Regions from separate parts of the Homo sapiens genome. Here regions 2 and 3 are each linked to region 1. The links come from fine-mapping of genetic effects on gene expression. A gene starts in region 1. Each other region holds a variant in brackets. All regions are shown on one strand. Distances are from middle to middle.

Region 1 (8,180 bases):
TTGCTTGAGTTTAGGAGTTTGAGACCAGTCTAGGCAACACAGCGAAATCCTGTGTCTACAAAACACTTAAAAATTAGCTGGGTGTGGTGGTGTGCGCCTGTAGTCCCAGCTACTCAGAACACTGAGCAGAGGATAGCTTGAGCCCAAGAGGTCGAGGCTGCAGTGAGCCACGAAGGCACCACGGCACCCCAGCGTGGGCAACAGAGCCAGACCCTGTCTCAGAAAACAAAACCAAAGGAAAGAAAGAAAGAATTAGGAAGAAAGCTAGGAAGGAAGGAAGGAAAAAGAAAGAGGAAGACAAAGAAAGAGAAAGAGAAAGAGAAAAAGAAAGAAAGAAAAGAAAGAAAACAAGATATTTGGGCATAACTTAACAGACTCTATGTTATTATTATTATTATTTAGAGACAGTTTCTCACTCCAACACCCAGATTGGAGTGTGGTGGTGTCATCACAGCTTGCTGCAGCCTCAACCTCCAGGGCTCAAACCATCCTCCCACCTCAGCCTCCTGGGTAGCTTGAACTACAGGTGTGCAACACCACGCCCAGCTAAGTTTTTTTTTTTTGTATTTTTTTATAGAGGTTTTGTCATGTTGCCTAGGCTCATCTCCAACTCCTGGGCTCAAGTGATCAGCCCACCTCAACCTCCCAAAGTGCTGGGATTATAGGATAAGCCACCACCCCAGCCTTCACAAACTCTTTAGATCTAACTGTTATGCCTTGGATTGACAGGGTTGGCAAATTACCTGGCGCTGGTGTTGCAATGCTGCCTCCTCCCATGCTTGAGGCAGGTGCTGCTTCTCAATCTTGCACCCTTTCCCACTGAGCATGGACTTGCCTTACAAGCCTCGTCCACTCAGGGCTCCAGAAAGTCACTATCAATCAATGGGAACAAGCATACCCAGTGAACCACCTTACTATCCTAGGGTTCTAGCCAGTATAGTCTTATTTTTTGCCTTTATTGATGCCATTTTTTGGAAATGGACCCACTACCTTATTATGCACATTTTGAATTTAAGTAAAAATATATAATAGCAATAGTTTGGATTCCTAACTAATATGAGCATTTAAATACCTAACTGATGGATTTAATGATGATTAATTTTGTTAAAGGTCTTCTTTCTACATCAACGAAAGATTTTAATTCTAGATGTATATATGGTTCCCATGGTTCCCTTAACTTTTTAAAAGTAAAGTGGCCTCTGTTTTCTTTCAGGCTCTGAGCTTTTCATGTGATTTAATAGCATCGATGGTTCACAATTTTCTAGAGCTCTGCAGCCATCTTAAAGCTGATATTAATGTTCCTGGCTTTTGGCAATGAATAACTAATTATGCTGCAAATAGCTAAATTAGGAAAGAGTCTATGGGAGAAGCCCTAAAAGAATGATCCATGGCAGGATTTTGGGAAGAGCTGGAGGTGCGGAAGTTGTCCAGACAGGAAAAGTGCAGCAGCCATGATGGTCGGTGCCTTCGCATCAGGGTTTTCACTCGCTGAGCCAATGGGTCCATAGCTGATGTCAGCTAAATGCCCATGGTGGTGAAGAGCTCCACACTCCTTGTGTTCCTGGGTCATACTCCGTCAGAAGAATCAGAAGCTGAAGCAGAATCATTGGAGCATTTGGCCCTATTCTCTGCTTGCTTTTGTTATCGGTGACTTAAAGAGGGACCAACAGAACACCTTCCTGGGCCTTGAGGGAGCTCTCTGTTGCCATCACCAAGGCCCCATTGGCCCACGCTTCTACCATGGTGTGTACCAGCTCTCCTGGGAGTCACGTGGCCACATATCAAGGGGAAGGAGCTACTTCCCTCCTAGAGCAATGGCACCTGCAGGTAAGAGCTGAGTGGTGAGCTCTTACTTCTGCACTCTGCACTGGGCCAGTATGGATCTCCCCAACCACATTTGACAGTCTTCATCCTGCCATACCAGGTATCACCATCTGCTTCAAAGTCCCCTTTACTATTTGTTCTACAACTGCTAGAAAACCTAAGGCCAAATAGATTGATAGCAAGCTGTCCCCTAATTTCTAAGATAATGCTGTATAGATTTTAAAAAGAATTTCAACAATCCTTATTGCATACTATAGAGGGAGTTCTGTTTCCCAGAAGTTGAAAGTATGGTAAAATCCCTCCTCATCATTCTTAGGGTGCTAGCTGTCCTGGGAGCTGGAAAAGTGATGCAGAAATTGCTGCTTCTCACAAGGCCATGACCTCTCCCTAACCTAGGTAAGGGTCAAGGCAAATGGTCATTTGCCACTAAATTATAAATCTCTGAGCTGGAACTTGCTGGATGTCAATGCTTTGAGAGATATGAGGCCTGGGCCTGCATCTGGGCCCCACCCATCGACTTCCTACATCTGTATTCTGGTTAGGCACCCCGCCTGGCTGCCTACCTGTACTTAAGCCTTCCTGTACTCTGGGACTAGGGGTAAGGGTGAAGAGAGGGTAGAGGAGGTGAGCAAGTGAGGGAAAGAAAAGGTAGTGGAGTGGCAGGATGGGAGGGGGCTCTAGCCAGGATGTTCTGTAAGCAGAGCCCAGCAAATTATCTCTGTTCCCCTTGGCCTGACCCCTTTTCCCAGGAGCAGGGCCTGGCAAGCAGGGTTGTTAGGTAACAGTTTCAACCATCCTCTGGTGGGTTACATACAAAAAGCAGTTTACAGTGTCAATGAAATGAATGCTAGTGTACCTTTCTCGACCTCCTAGCACTCTGGAGGTAAATGTGTGCAGCAGGTCACTGCAGACAGGGAGAGAGAGTTCTACAACAGAGTTGAAGGTAAAAACATGAAATAATTTGGGATATGACCCAAGTGATAACAATATGGTTTAACTGGTTTACCTGGTCTTGTAACCTAAAGAATAATTTCCATAACCCAGTTAACATTCTACTCATTACAGTATTTATGACTGTATATTTCTTAAAAAAGAGTTGAGGCTATGCACACAAATAACTACTCAATGACAAAGAATGAGCTGAGGGCTACACAGTGGCCAGAGAGCAAGTATATTATAAAGGGCTTTGGATCTTGGAGATTCCAGCACCCACTAACCCTGTAGGCACTAACCTCTTACTTTTCTCCTTAGTCAAATGGATTTAACAATCTTTGCCCTGCAGAGTTTTTGAGCAAATTAGCAACAATATATAAGGACAGTATCTAGCACAATACCCCAAATCGACTAACTCCTCCGTAAAGAATAGCTACCACTATTGTGAGAGTTTTAAGTCAAGCTGTGAATAAAACTCTTGGGTCCACTTAAAAATACCTCCCCTGGATGTAAGCATCCAGGGAAATCAGGGAATGCCATAAGACAGCCCTAATCTAAAAGCCTACAAGAAGCTCAGTGGGCTTCAAGGAAGACACTGCTCTTGGTACGATGAGGAAACCTGGCCCTCTATTTGCCTCCTGGGCCACAGTAATATTGATAATAGCTGCTGCTTTTAGTTGAGGACCATGTACGTCTGTGTCACTGCACTGGCCACTTTACTTACACTTTCCTGCTTTGTCCTCACAAAGATCCTGTAAGGTGTGTATTGGTCCCATTTAGCAGGTAAGACAATGAAGACCAGAGGTCCAGCACCTTGCCTAAACCACACCTGCTGGGATTTGGATTCAAGTCCAACCGTACAGCTCAAACGCTCAGCCACTTCCCTAAAGTCCACCCCCAGCTACATTAAGTAAAAAAATCCAGAAAGATGCCACCTGGGGGTCTGGAACTGCCTCCTCCGAGCACCCGGCTCTCCCCTCCCTGCGGACTCTTCTCTGGAGAGGATGTGATGCTTCTTACTTTTCTCAGATCCCTCTCCCCACCCTGCGAGTGACGTTGCGCCTCTGTGCCTGGTGGGATAGGGATCTGGGAGCTTCGCCTGTTTTTTGCACACTGCCATCCCCTAGTCTTAGGGAGCGAGCTCTGTCCCGCTTTTCACATCTCCGCGTCTTTCCTTGCACTCTACATCACCGCTGGGAATGTCCCCAGACCTGATCGGGGCATGCACACTGGGGTGTGCGTGTGCGTGTGGTGTGTGTTCCTGCGCGTGTGCCGGGCTCGCGGGGCAGGAAAAAGCGCCTAATCCAGGCTCTGCGTCACTCCCGCAATTGGTTAGAAATGGAGTTTCCTGGTGTTTAATCCCGGGAGGGCACTTCGCCTTCGTTGTTTCCCAGAGTCCCTGATTTTCCTGCCTCGCATGCCAGCGCCCCATAGGGCATCCGTGCCTCAGTTCACCTCTTGCCATCCTCCAAGGACGGGGAGAAGGGGTAAGGCGGGGGAGAGCAAGGTGGCTTGGTCGCCCCCGGCCCCCGCCCCCCATGTTGTGTGCAGTTTCCACCACGTCTGTTTCGGAGGGAGAAGAGGAGGGTGCAGATGAGGCGAGGCGCCTTCGGGAGCGCGGAGAGCGGGCAGGCAGTGCCACCTGCTGAGAGCCACTCAGGCCGAGCAAGCGGCGGGCAGTGCCACCTGCTATAAATAGGCCGCCAAGGACAGGGTGTGCGACTGTACATCCCGCCACGAGGGCCTGCATCACGCGCGGGGCCCCGCGCCCCCGGCTCCCCAGGGAAACGCTGTGCCCAGATCCTGCGCAGGGGTCTGGATGGGGCGGCGGCCCGAGTACTTCCCCCCTATTCCCCCCACAGACACTGGCTGAGGATGGCCCGCGGGCTTGGGGGCGGGGGGTGGCAAGGAGGGGAGGGAGGCCGCGGCGGACCCGCAGTGCAGCAGCTGTTGCTCGCGTGTGACTCGCCCGTCCGGGCCGTGCTGCCCAGGCACAGTCACACGGCGCAGTGGGGAGGAGGAGGACACCGAGTCCCCCTCCCAGCTCCCCGGGGACCGAGTGGGGAGATCCCGGCTCCTGTCTTCCCCTCGCCTCCAGCGCGCTCGCCCAGGCTGGGAGGAGGAAACCAGAGCCGCGCGCAGACACCTCCTCCTTCTCCTCCTCTTCTTCCTCCTCCTCCTCCTCCTCCTCTTCGGCTGCTGCTCCTGGTGCCGCCACCGTCCGCCGGTGCCTGTTGCTGCCGCCGCCGCGGGACCTGCTGTGTCCTCAGCTGGGTGGAGAAGAGGCGGGCGCCGAGCCGAGGGGAGCCCCCTCCCCGTCCCCCCGCGGCGGGAAGAGCGCAGCCAGCCGGGTGCGATGGACTCCCCGCCCGCCCAGGCCGTCCCCAGGATGCCCCCAAGCACCTGCGCGTCCCGGCCCGGCCCCGGGCTCTGAGCGCGCCGCGGCACAGGTAAGGCGCTTCCTGGGGCTTCGTCCTGGCCACCCTGCTGGCTCCTCTCGGGGCGTCGCGGCCGCCCCCTCCCGCAGCACGCCCCTGCCCCGCCTGGCCGCGGAGGGGAAGGCATCTGGCCGCCCACGGACGCGAGGCCAGGGTCTCTCGGGGGAGGAAGTTCATTGCCATCTCGTTGCCCCCCTTACCCCCCCACCCCCGCCGCCCTTGGACGAAAGCGAAACCTTAATGTTGCTAGCGACCCGAGAGCTCCGCCGGCTTCTCCCCCAACCCCCGCCAGCTCACTGGTCCGCGCATCTCTCCCCTCCCCCCTCCCGCCAATTATCCTAGCGTGTTTGCAAGGCGACCAGATTGGAAAGAGTGTGGTCAGAGTGACCCCAAGCCACGCTTTAAAAGTTCAGGGTACTTTGCAGTAGTAACTTTGGCAGCTCCACCAGTGCGCGCAACATTTCTTTCTATGGGTACATCCTGTACCAGTCATTTTGAAACCCTGCTTCATTGTTTCTAGCCGCTTCCTGATGGCTCTGTGATTATGAGACCCCCCTCAAACTTCACCAGGCATTAAGGTTTTGTTTTTGCTTTTTTTTCAGAGAGGTATCATTTCGTTTGAAATCCACCTAGATGTGGCTTTTCCTGTTTTGATTTTACTTAACATAGCTTATTCTCTGGAAGTTGCTTTAAAAAGAAATTGAAAGTGATGGTTGTTCCTTCCACCAAACAGTTTAATTTTCAGGGTGCCTCATATTAATGGATATGTTTTCCCTTCATAGATTTCTCATTGTTTCCCTTATGATGGGATGATTTCATTTATTAATAAAATCAGACTTTGAAAGAGCATTTAAAAATGACCTGGTTTAAATAGGTCACACCCAAGAAACTCAGCTATCTGTACAAGTTCAAACTTCTAAACTTTTTCAATGAGCTAGGGGTGGTGGCACCCACCTGTAGTCCCAGCTACTTGGGAGGCTGAGGCAGGAGGATCACTTGAGCCCAGGAGTTCGAGGCCATAGTGAGCTATGACTGTGCCACCTCACTGGAGCCTGGGTGACAAAGTGAGATCCCATCTCTTAAAAAAAAAGAGTTTAGGGGACATTTTCTGAAGTGAACACAAGTAGAGCATTCTAACACTATTGAGTGCAAGGAGACCTGGAAGGGACTAAGTGGTTCAAAGCAGGAAATAAAATCATCAGGTGATAATTAAAATAATTTCTTTCCTGTGGATTTGTCCAGCCATTTGCAAACCAGGAGAATAGGAAAAAAAATCACTAGTGTAGTTATAAATTATTACATTACGTTTTCAAAGGAAAATTTTGCAAATGCGTCTCCTTGTCATAGTCTATTGTTATCTACCCCACTGAGAGTGCTGGGGCTTCCCCTTTTCACCACGACAGCATTTCTGGTTGGGTGGCAGTCATGCAGTGTTGACCTGGTGTCCCATAAGGCACAGTTTGTCAAAACACTAGTGGGTATTAGGAGGAAACGTGCAACTCTGAAGCAACAGAGCTTGCCCCTTCTTCCTCATTATCCAGCTGGTGATAATCCCTGTCCCCCACTTCCCTAGAAGACAGCTTTGACCAGGAAGGCTGCAATGACAATGAGATGTACCCCTATGCAGAGCCAGATGTGGGCGGGTGGCTTTTTTGTGGTCCAGATCTTCTAGGATCTTCTAGGATGTAACCCTGGCAAGCAGTGGGGAGCCTGAATCAAGCAGCATGGCTGTTACCTCTTCTGTGTTCACAGCAGCATCTTCAGTTGTCTTGGTGCCTGGAGCAGGCACCACAGCTGCCTGCTCTGTTGGCCACCAGCTTTCTAGAGTAGATGGTAGGGAGGAGAGCAAGGGGCTCAAGAGGATTCTGTCTTTGAACATGCTTTTAATTTGATCTGACAGAATGGCAGCTCCCTGAAGTCCTTCCTACTCTCTCCACAGCATTTCTCTGTAGGTCCCCAGTTTTTGCTCTTTTCAGATTCCCAGAGGACTGAAAATGTATCACGGCCCATTTGGGGACTTCCTGTATATGTGTGGGTGCCTCAGGATCATTTGTTTTGCCCTTTTCCAGTCTACCGTGCTGCCCTTCTCAAGTTTAATGACCACGTTAGTTTCAATATTTTATATATTTCTCAGCAGTTTTCATCTCTTGGTCATTAAACTTGAGAAGTAAAATCTGCTCATTAAAATGACTGAGTCCATGGCCAGGCATGGTGGCTCATGCCTGTAATCCCAGCACTTTGGGAGTCCAAGGCGGGTGGATCACTTGAGGTCAGGAGTTCGAGACCAGCCTGGCCAGCATGGCAAAACCCTGTCTCTACAAAAATATAGATCTACAAAAACTAGCCAGGCATGGTGGCATGTGCCTGTAGTCCCAGCTATTTGGGAGGCTGAGACAGGAGAATCGCTTGAAGCCAGGAGGCGGAGGTTGCAGTGAAACATGATCGTGCCACTGAGTCCATTCAGCAGCAGAGTAGTGTTGGGGTTTGTATCCCTGTAGTGATGACGAAGGATTTAGGTTTTCAGTCAGAACTGTTACCTTACAATTTCCTTCACTGACTTTTCTTCCTTTCCAACACCACATTCCAATAAAAAATATCTTTAGACCAGATTCTTCACGAAAGACATGAAGGTTTTCATGCTTCAAGGTTTTTGACTTTTTTTTTTTTTTTTGAAAGGAGTCTTGCTGTGTCACCCAGGCTGGAGTGCAGTGGCGTGATCTCAGCTCACTGCAACCTCCGCCTCCTGGGTTCAAGTGATTCTCCTGCCTCAGCCTCCCAAGTAGCTGGGACTACAGGCGTGCTCTACCACGGCCGGCTAAATTTTGTGTTTTTAGTAGAGGCGAGGTTTCACCATCTTGGCCAGGCTGGTCTTGAACTCCCGACCTTGTGATCCACCCGCCTTGGCCTCCCAAAGTGCTGGGATTACAGGTGTGAGCCACGGCGCCCGACCAGTTTTTGACATTTCTAAGCCAAAAGTTCCATTTG
Region 2 (8,180 bases), 89 kb after region 1:
TCCTGTCTCAGCCTCCTGAGTAGCTGGGATTACAGGCGCATGCCATCACGCCTGGCTAATTTTTTGTATTTTTAGTAGAGACGAGGTTTCGCCATGGTGGCCAGGGTGGTCTTGAACTCCTGACCCCAGGTGATCTACCTGCCTTGGCCTCCCAAAGTGCTGGGATTACAGGCATGAGCCACCACGCCCAGCCTCTCTATGCCTTTACGGTTTTATCTATTCCTATGCACCAGATAAAACCACAAGGGTGGAAAAAAGATGAAACCCTATCATCCCCTGTAGGGTCTAGCCCCACAGGGTTGGTGGGTTTTTTCCCCGTGTGCAGAGACGAGAGAGTGTAGAAATAAAGACATAAGACAAAAAGATAAAAGAAAAGACAGCTGGGCCCGTGGTACCACTACCACCAAGATGTGGAGACCGGTAGTGGTCCCGAATGCCAGGCTGTGCTGATATTTATTGGATATAAGACAAAGGGGCAGGGTAAGGAGTGTGAGCCATCTCCAATGATAGGTAAGGTCACATGGGTCACGTGTCCACTGGACAGGGGGCCCTTCCCTGCCTGGCAGCCGAGGCAGAGAGAGAGAGAAGAGAAAGAGAGAGACAGCTTACAACATTATTTCTGCTATCAGAGACTTTTAGTACTTTCACTAATTTGCTACTACTATCTAAAAGGCAGAACCAGGTGTACAGGATGGAACGTGAAGGCAGACTAAGAGCGTGACCACTGAAGCACAGCATCACAGGGAGATGGTTAGGCCTCTGGATAACTGCGGGCAGGCCTGACATCAGTCAGGCCGTCCACAAGAGGTGGAGTAGTAGAGTCTTCTCTAAACTCCCCCGGGGAAAGGGAGACTCCCATTCCCGGTCTGCTAAGTAGCGGGTGTTTTTTGTTGACACTAACACTACCGCTAGACCACAGTCCACTTGGCAACAGGCGTCTTCCCAGATGCTGGTGTTACCGCTAGACCAAGGAGCCCTCCTGGTGGCCCTGTCCGGGCATAACAGAAGGCTCGCACTCTTGTCTTCTGGTCACTTCTCACTATGTCCCCTCAGCTCCTATCTCTGTATGGCCTGGTTTTTCCTAGGTTATGATTGTAGAGCGAGGATTATTATAATATTGGAATAAAGAATAATTGCTACAAACTAATGATTAATGATATTCATATATAATCATATCTAAGATCTATATCTAGTATAACTATTCTTATTTTATATATTTTATTATACTGGAACAGCTCGTGCCCTGGGTCTCTTGCCTTGGCAGCTGGGTGGCTTGCCGCCCACAATCCCCCATGATCCTCTCCTTTTGATATTCATGTCCTTATATTATCTCCTCCCCTTAAGTGTGGACTAGACTTATGTCTTTGGTTTTTCACAAACAGTAATAGAGCAAAAGTGTTGGGATGTCACATCTTAATTCATAAAACACTGTTTTTGGATTTGTGCATTCTCTTGGATCACTTGTGCTGGGGGATACAAACTGCCATTTTCTGATCAGTGCTATGGAAAGAAACAGCAAGAAACAGAGGCCCTGAGTCCAGCAGCTTGCGAGGAACTAAATACGGGCAACACCTATGTGAATGAGCATGGAAGTGGATCCTTCAGTCCCAGGCCAGTCTTGAGATGACTCCAGCCTCAGTTAACAGCTTGGCTGAAATTTTAGGGCGACTTTCAGCCAGAGCCATCCAGCTAAGATGCTCCTGGATTTCTGACCCACAGAAGTTGTTTGTGGTTTTAAGCTTCTCAGTTTTGGGGTAACTTTTTATACAGCAATAGGTAGCTAATACCCTCACTAAACTCAGATGCCAGATATTTAGGGAACAACATTAAAATGTCCCAATGGTCCTTCAAGAAGATAATGCACAATTAGTAGAAGGAAAAGAGAAGCAGAATTCTTGGGCTGGGTTGGCCATTTGGCCTGAGGAACTCAGTGAGTGGTTCCACCTGACACATGCATAACACATCAGCGATTAAACCTTTGGACTTTTTTTTTTTTCAACGTGGAACTCAGGAGTGGCTGGGATTGAAACTCAGCTTTACCTTTGTAGCCATAAACTGACCACCTTGTCTCATCATCTTGCCTTGGGAGAGAAGAAAACTATGGTGAAATCAACATTTCTCAAGTTGCTAAAGCCTCCTGGCAGGCAGGAGCTAAATGGTTCTTTTTCCTCTGCCCCACTTTTGGTCTCAATGGCCGAGTTTCCTGACTCCAAGAAAACCACCTTTGATTATATAAAGGTATTAGGGGCTGGGGAACACTGGTCTTTTGTTACTAGCAATCTAAAGCGCTTAGGAAGAAAAGCCCTGGGGGTGGGGGTCACCCCTGGAAAGTTGGGCGGGCTTTGTGTTAGCTCCAACTCTGGGGCTTTTGTGGAACCTCGGAGAGGGAGGAATTCTTAGATTTCTGAAAGTTGTGCGAAACGGACCCCAGAGGCCTGGAAAGGCGCGTCCCCAGCCTCCAGGGTTTCCTGCGCAGCCCTGGGCATCTCGGAAGGGGGCGACCCCAGCATGTCCCAACTTCCCGCCAGCAGCGGAGCGCGGGGGTGGGCGGGGTCGGCTGCGCGCCCTCCCCTCCTCTCCCCTCCTCCCCCCGCCCACCCCCTCCCCGCGCTCTCCCCTCCCACTTCCCTTTCTCTGCCTGGCCGCCCCGCGGGCGCGACCTCTCGGGGCAGTGACGAACTGGGTGGAGCCCGCCGCCGCCGCCGCCGCCGCCGGGGAGAGCGATGCCCCGGCCCCGCCGCTCCCCAAGCCCGCCCCCGGCCGCCCGCGGGCCCACGGGCCGGCGGCGGGAGTGAGCGGGAGCCGGCGGGCGAAGAGCCGCCGCCCGGCCCGCGATGTCACCATTGTTCAGCTGGGTGGCCAAGGTAGGCGGCGTCGGGCGGGCGCCCGTTACCGGAGCGGAGCGGCAGGCGCGGGGCTGGAACATTTGTAACCTTCGGGCCGGGGCTGGGCCGGGCCGCTGGAGGCCAGGCGCGGCGGGGGGCGAGCGGCGGGCGCGACCAGGTCGTTAGCCGCGCGTTTCTCATTCATTAGTCTCCCAGATCCCTGTGGGGAGGACGGGCGAGGTAGCGGCGCCCATTTCACAGTTGGGGAGACTGAGGCTGTACTCGGGGACCCCTGCGGGAGCCCGAACCCAGCAGGCGGCTCCTCCGGCCCCTGTCGCTCCCCGCGCCGCGGAGCTGCCGCTCGGTGCCTCCCCGGCGCGGGACCTCGCGGAAGTCGACCCCGCGTGTCTCCCTCGCGGGTGTCGCCCTCGTGTGTCTCCCTCGCAGAAGTCGGCTTGCGCTGGGCCGCCTGGACAGGGCGCCGAGGATGCCCAGAGGCTGGTGCCCACAAGGGGCGTCTGTCTTTCGTTTTTAACCCTCTGGTTTCAAAGGGCATGTTCTGAGGTCTGAGTTTTAAATAGAAGTTTTTAACTTTCCATTCCCACAAAGTTTTATTTTCAGAACATCAGCGCCTTCGAGATAACTGGGTGGTGCAAATCCAGGCCAGTTGCACTGTTGCTAACAGGAAGGCATAAGTGTAGATTTCCCGAGTTCCCACCAGTTCGAGAACACAGTAATAGCATCAATAGCATTCTTTTTATCCACTCCTGCAGTGCCAGGTGTCTGAATGTGTTTTAAAGGATGCGACCCTCGCCACCTTGAAAGGCTCGCTGGTCGTTAGGGCATCTTGCTGTCACCCCATGCACTCAGTCCCTTGGCCGGCGCCTTCCCAGGGCTTGTTTCCTGTGTATGGCTGGTTGAGTAATAAGCTCACAACTCGTTAGCCATACTGTGAGGCTTTACCAATTAATAATTTAATTAGGTGGTGGTTATGTCTTGAGTTATCATGCAATGCTTTTATAGTCTTATTTAATTACATTTTTATGAATACCTGTTTGTGAGCAGGTATGGCTTTGCCTGTGATTTAAGTGATACAAAATTGGAGACACAGAAACTAGATAACACTAGTTTTTAGATGGGCAAAAGTTTTTAGGTAGATTTTCTTACTAGGTAAATAACATTCCATTAGAATCACTTCCTGAAACATAGCTGGTGGTAAAATGAGATGACTTTCAAAAACGTTTTGAGTCATTAAAAAGTCATTTCAAAAACCATCACAGACTTTTAGGACGATTGTTAGCCTTCTCCGAGTGTCAGTACGTTGGAAAAGTTTATATAGAGGAAATGTAGGCTGGTAGCTTAATTTGGATTCTGAATCTTGTTATTTCAAAATTATTATTTTTGAGACAGAGTCTTACTCTTGTCACCTAGGCTGGAGTGCAGTGGTGCGATCTCAGTTCACTGCAACCCCCACCTACCAGGTTCAAGCGATTCTTGTGTCTCAGCCTCCCCAGTAGCTGGGATTACAGCTGTGCGCCACCACTCCCAGCTAATTTTTGTATTTTCAGTAGAGATGGGGTTTTGTCATATTGGCCCGGCAGGTCTCGAACTCCTGGGCTGAAGTAATGCCCCCACCTTGGCCTCCCAAAGTGCTGGGGTTACAGATGTGAGCCACCACACCCGCCCTCAAAATTATTATTTCGATTACAGGACAACAGCGGAAAAACTATTAAATGTTTTTGGAGCAAATTCATGTATACCTCTTAGCATACATTTTTAAAATGTGGTTATTTTATATTTCATTTCCTGTAGGTGGTGCATGCATTACAAATTATATCCCGAAATTGAATGATTTTTATAGATAACGTGTTATCCTGTGAAAGATTTTAGAATACGAAATTAGTCTTTGGAAGTTTATTTCTTGGAGTTATAGATTGTAAGAATGATGTTCTATGGAACTGATGTGGTTTACGGTGAAGAGGCAAGTCATTAACACACTTTACATTACAAACTAGGTAATATCCTAAAGACAAAGACAAAAGGCATAGATAATGTACACAATGTGAATAATCTTGAAGTTGTTATATTTGAC[T/G]TCAGAATGCCCCTTCAGAAACACACAGCTGCACATGAGCACAGGCCTCACACAAACACCTGCACATCCAGTTACGCAGCTGACTTTCCTTTTCCTTTTTCATTTTGACCTTTGCAACTGCAGCTGAACACCTGGTGGGGAAGGAGAAGGGGTGGGTGTCGGTTGATTCACATGGATACCTGAGCACGAATGTGTTTTTCTTTTTTTTTGTTTTGAGACAGAGCTTCGCTCTTGTTGTCCAGGCTGGAGTGCAATGGCACAATCTTGGCTCACTGCAACCTCTGGCTCCTGGGTTCAAGTGATTCTCCTGCCTCAGCCTCCCGAGTAGCTGGGATTACAGGCTTGCGCCACCACCCCCGCTAATTTTGTATTTTTAAATAGAGACAGGGTTTCTCCATGTTGGTCAGGCTGGTCTTGAAGTCCCGACCTCAGGTGATCCACCTGCCTCGGCCTCCCAAAGTGCTGGGATTACAGGTGTGAGCCACCGCCCCCGGCCAAGCATGAATGTGTTTTTCTTGCACGATGCATTAGTATTGTGTGAATATTGAATGTGTAGAGTGGGCAATTTCATGATGTAGGAATAAAGCCAAAACGGGAGAGTTTTGTTTTAAAGAGATTATCTGTTTAAAGAAGAAAGAAAAACATAAGATGTACTTTTAAAAAAAATTGGACATGATCTGGAACATTAGGGCAGGTGTACATTGCATCAAGAATGTGGCTGGGCTTTATAGCAGTGTGATTTCTTGATTAGTCTTTCAGTGGGGACACTTGACTTTTTACGCAGTTTATAAATAAAACTGAACTTCTCAAGCTTTGTGATTTTCATAGTAAACTCACAGATGTCCCCAACAACCTGTCAGTTTTGAGTATATCTACTGTTTCTATGCCTCCATGTATCTGTTAGTCAAAACTGACTGCAGCAGAACTGCCAAGTAACTTCCAGAATTTATTTGGATTTGCACCTGCTTATAAAGTTTGTAGCTAAGATTATTGCTGGTATCTCAAGTTGGTAGATTTTAAATATACATATGTCAGTTTATGAGAAAAAATGGAAAATGAGAACTAAATATAGCCAAGTTTGCTGTGTTTCAAATCCAAGTATAGTTTCATATAGTTTATGGTGTGTATTAAGTATTTACCTTATGAATAAAGTACTTAACTGTGTATTTAATGTATTAATTAAGGCATTTAACTGTGTATTTTCCAGTGCTCATTCAACAAGTGTTTTATTAGGTACTTTTTGTATATAAGCAGTGTTTATGTCCTGGAGGAGTTAATTCACTCTGCACAATAGATTATCCTTTAAAAAGTGTGCACCCTGGAGATTTGTAAATTAAATATTTAAAGATGCATTAAAAAAGGAATCTTTTTTTTTTTTGACCCTGAGTCTCACTCTGTCGCCCAGGCTGGTGTGCAGTGGCACGATCTCGGCTCACTGCAACCTCTGCCTCCTGGGTTCAAGTGCTCCTCCCACCTCAGCCTCCCTAGTAGCTGGGACTACAGGCATACACCACCATGCCCAGCTAATTTTTGTATTTTTAGTAGAGACAGGGTTTCACCAGGTTGGCCAGGCCGGTCTTGAACTCCTGACCTCAAGTGATCTGCCCACCTCCGCCTCCCAAAGTGTTGGGATTACAGGTGTGAGCCATTGCATCCAGCCCACAGAATCCTTTTGTAAAGCAAGTAACTGATTGCTAATTAATATTTTATGTAAAACCAGGTTTTCCGTATTTGGGCATTACTTTTAAAACATTGGTTTATCTAGCCACCATTCATTCAACAGGTCATTTAACAAATGTGTTCAGTGCAGATATTTATGGATAACCTACCTATAATAGGTACTATTTGAGGAGCTGGGGATTTAGCAACCGACAAGCAGACCCCTGTTTTCATGGAATTCTAGATGGGAGAGATAGCAAAGCAGCAAGCAAATAGGTGAACAAGATTATTTCAGATGGTGATCAGTGCGAGGAAGAGAAGTAAGTGGCTCCGGGCTGGGGTGGTGCAGGGGTGGCATTCCATCTGACTGGTGAGAGGGCAGGAAACATGCTCCAGGCAGGCCTCAGGGAGAAGGGAGGTATGGCTGGAATATATCCAGCTGGGTGCACAGCACTGAGCTTTGAGTGGGGAGGGGTAAGGTGGGCCAGGCTGTTTATGGCTCCATAGGCTTAGAATGGGGTTTGGATTTGCTTTTAAGTGTAGTCAGAAGCCGTTAAAGATGTGGAAAAGAGGAGTGATGTCAGCTGATGTATATTTCGGATGGAAGCAGAGGGACCACTTAGGAGGTGGTTTTGGTTCGGATAGGAGGTGATAGTGGTAGCTTGGACCTCAGTAATAAGAAAGGAATACCAGTGGATAGTCATTGTCTGTATTTTGAAATGATGTGACCCAGTGGCTTTGCTATCTTGTTTGTCTGTGTTTGGTGCAAATAACCGAGTAACTAATTGCTATTTATATGTTGAGTACGAGTACAACTTGCCCTTCCATCATCTCTTTCTTCTAAGCACAGCTTCCATGCAAAGTTCTGTCCTGACTCTGGGCTTATTTATTTACCTTTGAGGTTTCCTGCAGACTAGACCAGCCCACCTTGGGTGCCGGTAGGCGGTAGGAGTTGCCCTTCTGTTTACCAGCACACAGCACAGCAGCCTTCCTATGTAAGGTGTGAATCTGACTATAGCAAATATTTAGGCAACAATTTTCTTGTGTTGCTTGAAGTCAGTCCAGTGTTGGTTTGTCCTTGATGTGTGTCCTAGGTTAATGTGATGTATTGTTTTAAAATTTTTTTTTCTTCTGTAGACTCATACTACATTTTATTAGTGGATGCTTGAGTTTAATAAGGAGGGGAGAACTCCTTGTCATAGTCAAACCATTCCTTGAATTTGAAAAATGTGCTGCCTCGGCTAAGCAAAGCTGGTATAACCCTGACCAGGATTTCAGCAGAGTTCCTGTGGAGCACTTTTTATCTGGTAGTGGTGGCAGCTGTGTTTTGGGCTTTGGGAACTCTAGTTGCTTAGAGTGTGCCAGGAACTTGGGCGTAGGTTGGTTTTACTGAAAGAGAATGGAGGAGAGCAGAGATAGAAATCCCACCTAATCCACAAATAGAACACAGCCCAGAGCAATGCCTGATGAGAAAAAAAGATAAAGTATAATTTGTTTCCTTAGACAAATTCTTTAATCTGATTTTAACCTGTATGTGTGTCCCCTGTTCTTCTGTTTCTATCAAAACTCTCCTCATCCTTCATTCCTTTCCTGAAGCACCTCTG
Region 3 (8,180 bases), 99 kb after region 1:
CTGGCCAACATGGCAAAACCCTATCTCTAGAAAAATACAAAAATTAGCTGGGTGTGGTGGCGTGTACCTGTAATCCCAGCTACTTGGGAGGCTGAGGCACGAGAATTCCTTGAGCCTGGGAGGCAGAGGTTGTAGTGAGCCAAGATTGTGCCACTGCACTTAGCCTGGGTGACAGAGTGAGACCCTGTCTCAAAAAAAAAAAAAAGAAAATGTTAGTGCTTTTGAATTTTATTTTAGAATGCACAGTAATATTCACGAACATCTGTACAACCTATAGGAAGACCTTTATTTGGTTATATTTATGATATATATATTTTCTTGAGATGGAGTCTTGCTCTGTCACCCAGGCTGGAGTGCAGTGGCGTGATCTCGGCTCACTGCAACCTCTGCCTGCCGGGTTCAAGCAATTCTCTTGCCTCAGCCTCCCGAGTAGTTGAGACTACAGGCACGCGCCACCATGCCTGGCTAATTTTTTTGTATTTTTAGTAGAGACGGGGTTTCACCATGCTGGCCAGGATGGTCTTAAGCTCCTATCCTTGTGATCCGCCTGCCTCAGCCTCCCAAAGTGCTGGGATTACAGGCGTGAGCCACCGCGCCCAGCCTATATTTATGATATTTATGAATCTAATCTTAAGTATCTGGTTTTTCCATTTTAAAATTTCTATGATTTCTGATTTTGTTGTTGGAAGAGTGGTGAACAAGTACTCTGTGCTCTTTTGTTAAATTTATATGAAAAAGCTGACAGAAAAATTACCTTAATTTTCATGCACTTTGGTTATTTTCCTGTAAATCATTTTTATATCTGTCATGTTATAATGGGATTAGACTCACAGGCTCTGTTCTTTTACATTGGTTGAACTTGGCTAAGTTAACTTTGCTGAGCCTGTTTTCTTGTGTCTGAAATGAACTTAATATATACTTGTTTTGTATTTATCTTTTTAAAAATAGTTCCTATTTTAAAATCCATTAATGTCAAAATCTGCTTAGGAAATTGTGAAGACTATCTTCAGATGTAAACCATTTAAAACATGGTCGAATGGGCAGTTTAAGTTAATGGCATGTGTGGTATTAGGCAGGGTAGATACTGAGATGAGTAGGACATGGGCCCAGCCCTTGAATAGCTTGCAGTCTAATGGGGAGAGGGAGACCTGTGGAGATAATTTAATTTTAATGTGATATATGCACGAAGAATCACTCAGCTGGGATTTTGGAGGAGACTAGAAGATGAGGTCTGAGTGAAGTCAAGGGTAATTGTAGGTCATTGATGTGGTGGATTATGAAAAGGAATAGTGAGGAAATACTACTGGTAGTTTTCTAGCATGTTTCAGAATGATTCAAGGTTGCTTTCCAACTGTTTGCCTTGTTTTTGAGACCACTGATTTTTAACCTTGGGGAAGGCACATCAGTATAAATAAATTACTCAGACCTTTTCTTTCATACCAGCACTGCCTATGGCCCTCAAATACCTATCAGTAATTGTGGCTTAGGGTGGTGGTCATTCTAGTAGGATTTAGTAATGTAATTACGGTGTAACCAGAATGTCATCTTGAATGTAATTCCATTTGTTCTTTTCTACATGGGGAACTGACACCCAGAGCGATGAAGTAACTTGATTTGAACAAGATCACACAGCTAGTTTATGGCAGAACTTAAAAAGTTCTTGGACACCTGTTTTTGAGGTACATTGTTAATATTGCTCTGCTGATTTGTTTGCACTTTCATCTTCAAACTGTTTTACTAAAATCAAAACTATGCACATCTATCAAACAATATATTGTATTTCAGAATACTTTATTTATTTATTTATGTTTTTGAGACGGAGTCTTGCTCTGTTGCCCAGGCTGGATTGCAGTGGCGCGATCTCGGCTCACTGCAACCTCTGCCTTCCGGGGTCAAGTGATTCTCCTGCCTCAGCCTCCAGAGTAGCTGGGACTACAGGTGCCCGCCACCGTGCCTGGCTAATTTTTGTATTTTTACTAGAGATGGGGTTTCGCCATGTTGGCCAGGTTGGTCTTGAACTCCTGACCTCAAGTGATCTGCCTGCCTCAAGTGATTACAGGTGCGAGCCACTGTGCCTGACCCAGGATACTTTATTTAACCCCTTGATGAGTGTATTCTTGCAAATTTCAGGTCAAGATGCCTGCAGGGAAATGAGCAAGGAGAGGAAGCCTGAGTAGTCGGGTTGGGGTGGGTGGGGATCCTTTGATATGTGAAGGGTGTCTCTGCAGCCTGGTAGGACCAACCAGTTGTGTTAACTGTGCAAGAAGAAGCACAGCCTGAGTATTTGAAGAGAGTGCAAGTTGCCAATGTCTAATGTGGCTGTTTAGCTCCCTAGCACTGGGCTGCAGTGACCCACCCATTCACTGAGTGCTCCTGTTTCCCGGAAGGCATCCTCTGGGAGATGGGGTAGGTGTGTGTAATGGATCTCTTCCCTCTAATATGAGAGATTGACTTTGCTCAGAAAAACATCGACTGCAAATGGCATTTAATAGAAGGGACAATTATTTTAGCATGAATAACAAGGGAAGAGATGATTATATTTTTCAGAACTTTATATGTGCCAGCCATTGTGTTAGAAGTCTCATAATTAATTTAATTCTCAAAATAATTGTGGCAGTAGTGGTATTATTTCCTCCTTCCACTTTTTTTTTTTTCAGGAAAGAAATATGAAGAAACTGAAATTCAGAAAGGCTAGGTACCGTGTCCTAGCTAATAAGATTAAAGCTTGACTTGTTTGGCTCTAAATTCATATTTTATCTGTTGTACCTGCATTGTCTCTGTAACGGGGATTACAACGCATGTTCAATATGTGAAACAAGGGCAGCAGAGCTTAGAAAAATATCTTGTTCCACTGAGAAACTGAACTTTTTTCCCCTTTCTTAGGTGAGAGACATAAAACATTCAACTAATCTGCTTTTAAAAATAGATATACCATATGGAAACTATATAAGAAGTGTAACATTTTTTTAAATCCCTGAATTTTGTGATGTTCTCAGTTAGGGAGAGAAGGAAACAGGAAATAAGAGAAAAATCACATAGAAGATTGAAGGTGAAGATTGGGAGGAGGTTAAGACAATTCAATGATAGACCGAAAGAGGTCAGTTTTGAGTGACCACATGAGATTGCATTTTCTCGTTGACTTGAGTTGTGGATTTTAGAGTGTTTTCACTTATTCTCTGATATTCTTTTCAAAGTACCACAGAACCATGTTTCATAGTTATTCAGCTTACCTGGAAAGTTCTCTTTAGGAGTCGATTCTGCATAGACTCTCCAGAGCATCATACTGTGGATGTTTTATCGGCCTATAGATAGCACACTAGGCAGGCAGTAGCAGGCGTGGGGTGCAGGTCCCAGTGTGCTCTGTGTTTGCTGTTTAGCCTTGGCTAGGCGACAGTGGGAAAGATGATCAATGCCAGGTGCCCATCAGGTAGCCTTGTTTGGCATCACGTGAGCTGATGTAAGTGCATGTAAACCGTCAAGCACTCTTTTGGATGAACTTGTCTAGGAACAGCAGGGTGTAGCACGTGTTTCCAATACATTTTTTGACCTAGGGCAAGTTACACTTGCCTGGGCCTCAGTCCTTGATCTATAAAATGAGAACATTGTGTTAAATGATTGCTACAGTTGTATTCAATTCAGAATCTGTGTCCCTGTGAGTGCAAGTCAAGCCAACTATCTTAGATTGTCTACCTTTGATAAGGAGGAAAGGGCCCCTGAAATCATTGGTCTAGGTCAGATCTCTCCACCAGTTACCAGTGGAGGGATGACCTTAAGTAAGTTATTTTTTTCTCTAGACATTAATGTGTTCATCCATTAAAGGGGGGATGATAAACAGCTATCCTCTAAGCGGTTGACGATTTATCCACATAACACACTTAGTACCTAGATTAAGCACTTAGTACTCGTGAACCATCATCATCATTGAATTTAGGGGTGGAGGAAGACTTTTGTAGTTGCTTAGCTGCATTCCCTCTTTTTAAGGATGAAGAAACATGAAGCCCACTATAGGTGAGATGTCTTTCCCAAAGCCACAGCTAAGATCCAAACAGAGCTCTTTGCATCACCTGGCACTCATTCAAATGGAAACCAAAAACAAAATTTGAAGCACCCCAACTGACCGATGGACCGCCCCCTCCTCAGTCAAGGGCATTCCAGAGAAACCTGAAAAACTCGTTCAGGTCGTGATGGGAAAGGGGACATGCTTCATTACACCTTCCTCTCTCTGGAATTCAGGCACAACTGACCAGCGTAAACATTAAAACAGAGATCTTAAGACTGCCAAAACAGATCTCAAATTCCAGCCTAACTG[C/T]AGTCTGACATCACTTGACATAGCAGGCCCTGAAAGAAATTGAAGTATTTTACCACAAAATATATTTCTTTGGCATATTTTGAAATGGCCCTGGAAAGCTGTCTCTTATGGGGAAAATCTACTTTCTCTAAAGAATCCTCTTCACTTTCCAGATCTTTTCCTTGAACCAGGAGAGAATTAACTAAGAGTCTGGCACATTTTTTGTTAGGTCTGATAAGATCTCTGAAGCCTGCTACCTGGAGGCCTCATCTGCATGATAAAAACCTTGGTCTTCACCCAGGTTATGACCTTGTCTTAACCTACACACTTATTTCTATTGATTCCAGATCTTTAGATAATAACGCTTTCAACTAATTGCCACTCAGAAAATATTTGAATCCACCTATGACTTGCAACCTCCCCTCCACCTTCAAGTTGTCCCACCTTTCCAGACCAAACCAATGTACACCTTACATATATTGATTGATGTCTTATGTCTCCCTAAAATGTATAAAGCAAGCTATAGCCCCGACCACCTTGAGCACGTGTTCTCAGGACCTCCTGGGGTTGTGTCATGGGTCGTGGTCCTCACATCTGGCTCAGAATAAATCTCTTTAAATGTTTTACGGAGATTGATTCTTTTTGCTGACACTAATATTTAGATTCTTTCTGTTGTTCTAGCACATTCTGCATGAATTAAACATAAACCCTGTTCCCTAGTACAGAACAAGAGCAAACTGCTTTCTTTAGGCCACAAGTAACTTAGATCAGTTAAGGGGAAAATGGGGGAGAGAGGAGGACATTGGCTTCTGCCACCAGCAGCCTGTGTGACCTTGCCCAAGGTCACAACTCTGTGGGGTTAGTTCCCCTTCCCTGAAATAGGTGTAGGGAGGGACTCCTTGACAGTTTCTGGTTTTTTTCGTCTCTCAGAGTGCAATGAAGAATTTCTTCATGGCTAAGGCTGTTAGACTCCAGAAAATAGTTTGCCAACCAAAGACACAGAGTTTCCAATTTTGGAATACTTTAAAAATAGGAAGGAAGTTTATTTGTTTAGCAGAATTTATAATTGTAGGACTGCCCAAGGCAGAGAATTAGCCAAGTGGTATTTTGCGGAAGTTCTTTTTAAAGGGTGGGCCCAAAGGAAACCAGTCATTAGGTGGAAATAAACTGTCAGATTTTTGAGACGTTATTTGCTTAGGGACATTTACACTGGTCTATTGTGACAGTCTCTATTGTGTTAGGCTTTTAAAAGAAATATGTAAGTTTCCAAGTTTAAAATGTTAGAGCAAGTGTCCAGTCCACGGCCTGTGGGCTACATACAGGCCAGGATGGTTTTGAATGTGGCCCAAAAAAGATTCATCAACTTTCTTAAAACATTGAGTTTTTTTTTTTTAAGCTAATCAACTATCATTAGTGTTAATGTATTTTATGTGTGGGCCAAGACAATTCTTCCAGTGTGGCCCAGGGAAGCCAAAAGATTGGATACCCCTGTATTAGAACTTGTAAAATTTGACTTCAGAAACACAACCAAAAGCCCGCTTATGAGTAAGGAGTTTGTGGCCCCTTGTGTACTGATTATTAATCAATTAATTGTATAATAAGCATGAAATATTGCTAGTACATCTAAGGCCAAAGCCTTCTTACGGTTCCAGAAAAAGCTGTATTCCTGAATTTCCAGGTGAAGGGAAGGGATTCTCCTTCCATTTCCAGAAATATGTGAATATAATACATAGGGATTTTTATCACACTAGTGTTTCAGTAAAAGCAGCCCTTCAAGTCTGTGCCATCCAGTTTTGGTGTAACTGAAAGAACATCGTACCAAAGTTTGATTTTTGTCAATTCTCTAGTGTGTTAATCAGCTGAGAATGTGGTCTCTGGATATTTTTCCCCAAGGAAAGAGCTGGATGTACTAGACCACCAGACCACACAACTCTGTATTTGTTTTGCAATAACTACACTATTTGGGGGAGTAGTGTGGTGTTTCCAGACGTTCTTGGTCAAGAAATCTGGCCGCTTCAAGCTCAGTGTTGATCACAATCTATTTCTTTTGCCTCTACTCTGTGGCAGGCACTTGAGACACAACTGCCAAGATGAGAGAGACCCAGCTGCTGACCTGGGGCGGGGGTGGGTGGGGGGAAGGTGGTGAAGGCAGTCACAGAGTCAGCCTGCCAGAAAGCAGGTGGGGAACTGTAAACCTCTGAGTAGCCCCTTGGTATACAGAGGTAATAATTTCCCAAATGTAGTAAATCCCACTTTACAACCTCACGGTTAATTTTGATCAGGGATAAGTAGAACTGACTATACACTGTTAACTTAGATATTGTCCTTCTCAAAAACATCATTTTTATTCTGGGTGCCAGAGATTTGGCTTGGGTGTGGGTGTTAAGAACAGTCCACAGTGTCCTGGAGTACCTCTCCGCTGATCTGGGGGCTCTTTAAACCTCTCTAACAAGTTTTTGTGCTAATCCTGACTGAGTAGATGGAGGCAGTGGAGCCCAGCTGGCCTGTCACTATGGGGCAGAGGGTGACTCTACCCTCAAGCCCTGCATGAAGACCCCAGGGTGGGCACCACAGCCCTTTACAGTCACTTAGCACCTGCTGCTGAACACGAGCATGCAGACCTGGTAAGGCTTGTGAGTTTCAGAGAATTCCTGCAAGTCCCTGGAAATGTGGGCACTGGCAGCTCTTCTCTCTCTTTTTTTTTTTTAAATTTAGTGGGCTTAGAGGTTTTAGCCTAATAAGGAAATTTTACACTGGACGATTTTATCCCAAATAAAAGCAAATCATAGGGACCCAGTGTTGCCTAAAAAACCAGTCCTTACTGGGGAGGTCTAGTTGTGTCTAGCCTGGCTCTGTGACCAGATGCCAGCCATTCCAGCCTCCTGTGGCTGCATTTCATCCCGAAAGTGAATAAGGTGAGTGAGTGATTCAAAGGTCCCATCCAGGGGGTGACAAAGAATATTCCAGGTGGAAGAAACTGCATGAGCAAAGGTATGGAGGTGGAAACCCAAATGAACAGAGGCTTAGGAGGTGTGTTCGAAACATGTTTGGTACAAACGGAACTTACAGAGAAAGAAGCCAGGTGAAATAAGGCAGGAAGAGTTGAGTGGAGCCCCATTGGTGGGAGACCCTGAGGGTTAGCAGGACTGTGTTTGTTCTGGTAGGGATTGCAGAGGAGCCCTAGAAGGTTTGTGAGCAGGAGGCTGACCCCATCAGACCTGTGTTTCCAGAAGATCAGGCTGTGCTGGATAGCAGGATGGATGTAGGGAGATGCCAGAGGCGGCAGAGGAGAGGTCTTGCTGGGGTCTGGCTGAAGCAAGTGTAGGCCCGGACCAGCGCTTGAGGTTTTGGGCTCGTGGTGAGAGAATATACACCCAAAGAGCTGAGGGAAAGAAGGAGTAAGGAGAAAGAAGAGCAGAAGCCACTTACCAGGTTTTGAGCCCAGTTACCTAGAAGGCATTTGGGAAACAAGGAAGTAGGAAGAAAGGCCTATTTTAAGGAAAAGAGAATGAGCTTGATGTGGATATTTTAAGGTCAAGGACTAGAAGTCTGGTGTTTTTTTTTTTTTTTTTTTGAGACGGAGTCTCGCTCTATCACCCAGGCTGGAGTGCAGTGGCGCGATCTTGGCTCACTGCAAGCTCCGCCTCCCGGGTTCACGCCATTCTCCTGCCTCAGCCTCCCGAGTAGCTGGGACTACAGGTGCCTGTCACCACGCCCGGCTAGTTTTTTGTATTTTTAGTAGAGATGGGGTTTCACCGTGTTAGCCAGATGGTCTTGATCTCCTGACCTCGTGATCTGCCCGCCTCGGCCTCCCAAAGTGCTGGGATTACAGGTGTGAGCCACCATGCCTGGCCGATTCTTTTTTTTTTTTTTTTCTTTTTTTGGAGACAGA

The links.
Region 2: its variant is fine-mapped to the expression of TBC1D1 in whole blood (INTERVAL, PIP above 0.99).
Region 3: its variant is fine-mapped to the expression of TBC1D1 in thyroid (GTEx, PIP 0.98).

The regions. Positions count from the first base shown.
Region 1 is chr4:37,886,142-37,894,321 of GRCh38, forward strand. TBC1D1 (TBC1 domain family member 1) reads left to right here and starts at 4,943. Exons shown (of 22, transcript NM_001396959.1): 1 at 4,943-5,207. RefSeq lists silencers at 4,462-4,651, 4,972-5,471, 6,501-6,550 and enhancers at 6,251-6,380, 6,811-7,090.
Region 2 is chr4:37,974,666-37,982,845 of GRCh38, forward strand. The region is part of intron 2 of TBC1D1 (TBC1 domain family member 1); the gene reads left to right. Among named protein-coding and RNA genes, the nearest start is that of PTTG2, 18 kb to the left of the region's middle. RefSeq lists silencers at 2,524-2,593, 2,664-2,783, 2,904-2,953, 2,974-3,273 and an enhancer at 7,517-7,616. The variant T/G (reference allele first, on the strand shown) is at 4,918.
Region 3 is chr4:37,984,651-37,992,830 of GRCh38, forward strand. The region is part of intron 2 of TBC1D1 (TBC1 domain family member 1); the gene reads left to right. Among named protein-coding and RNA genes, the nearest start is that of PTTG2, 28 kb to the left of the region's middle. The variant C/T (reference allele first, on the strand shown) is at 4,310.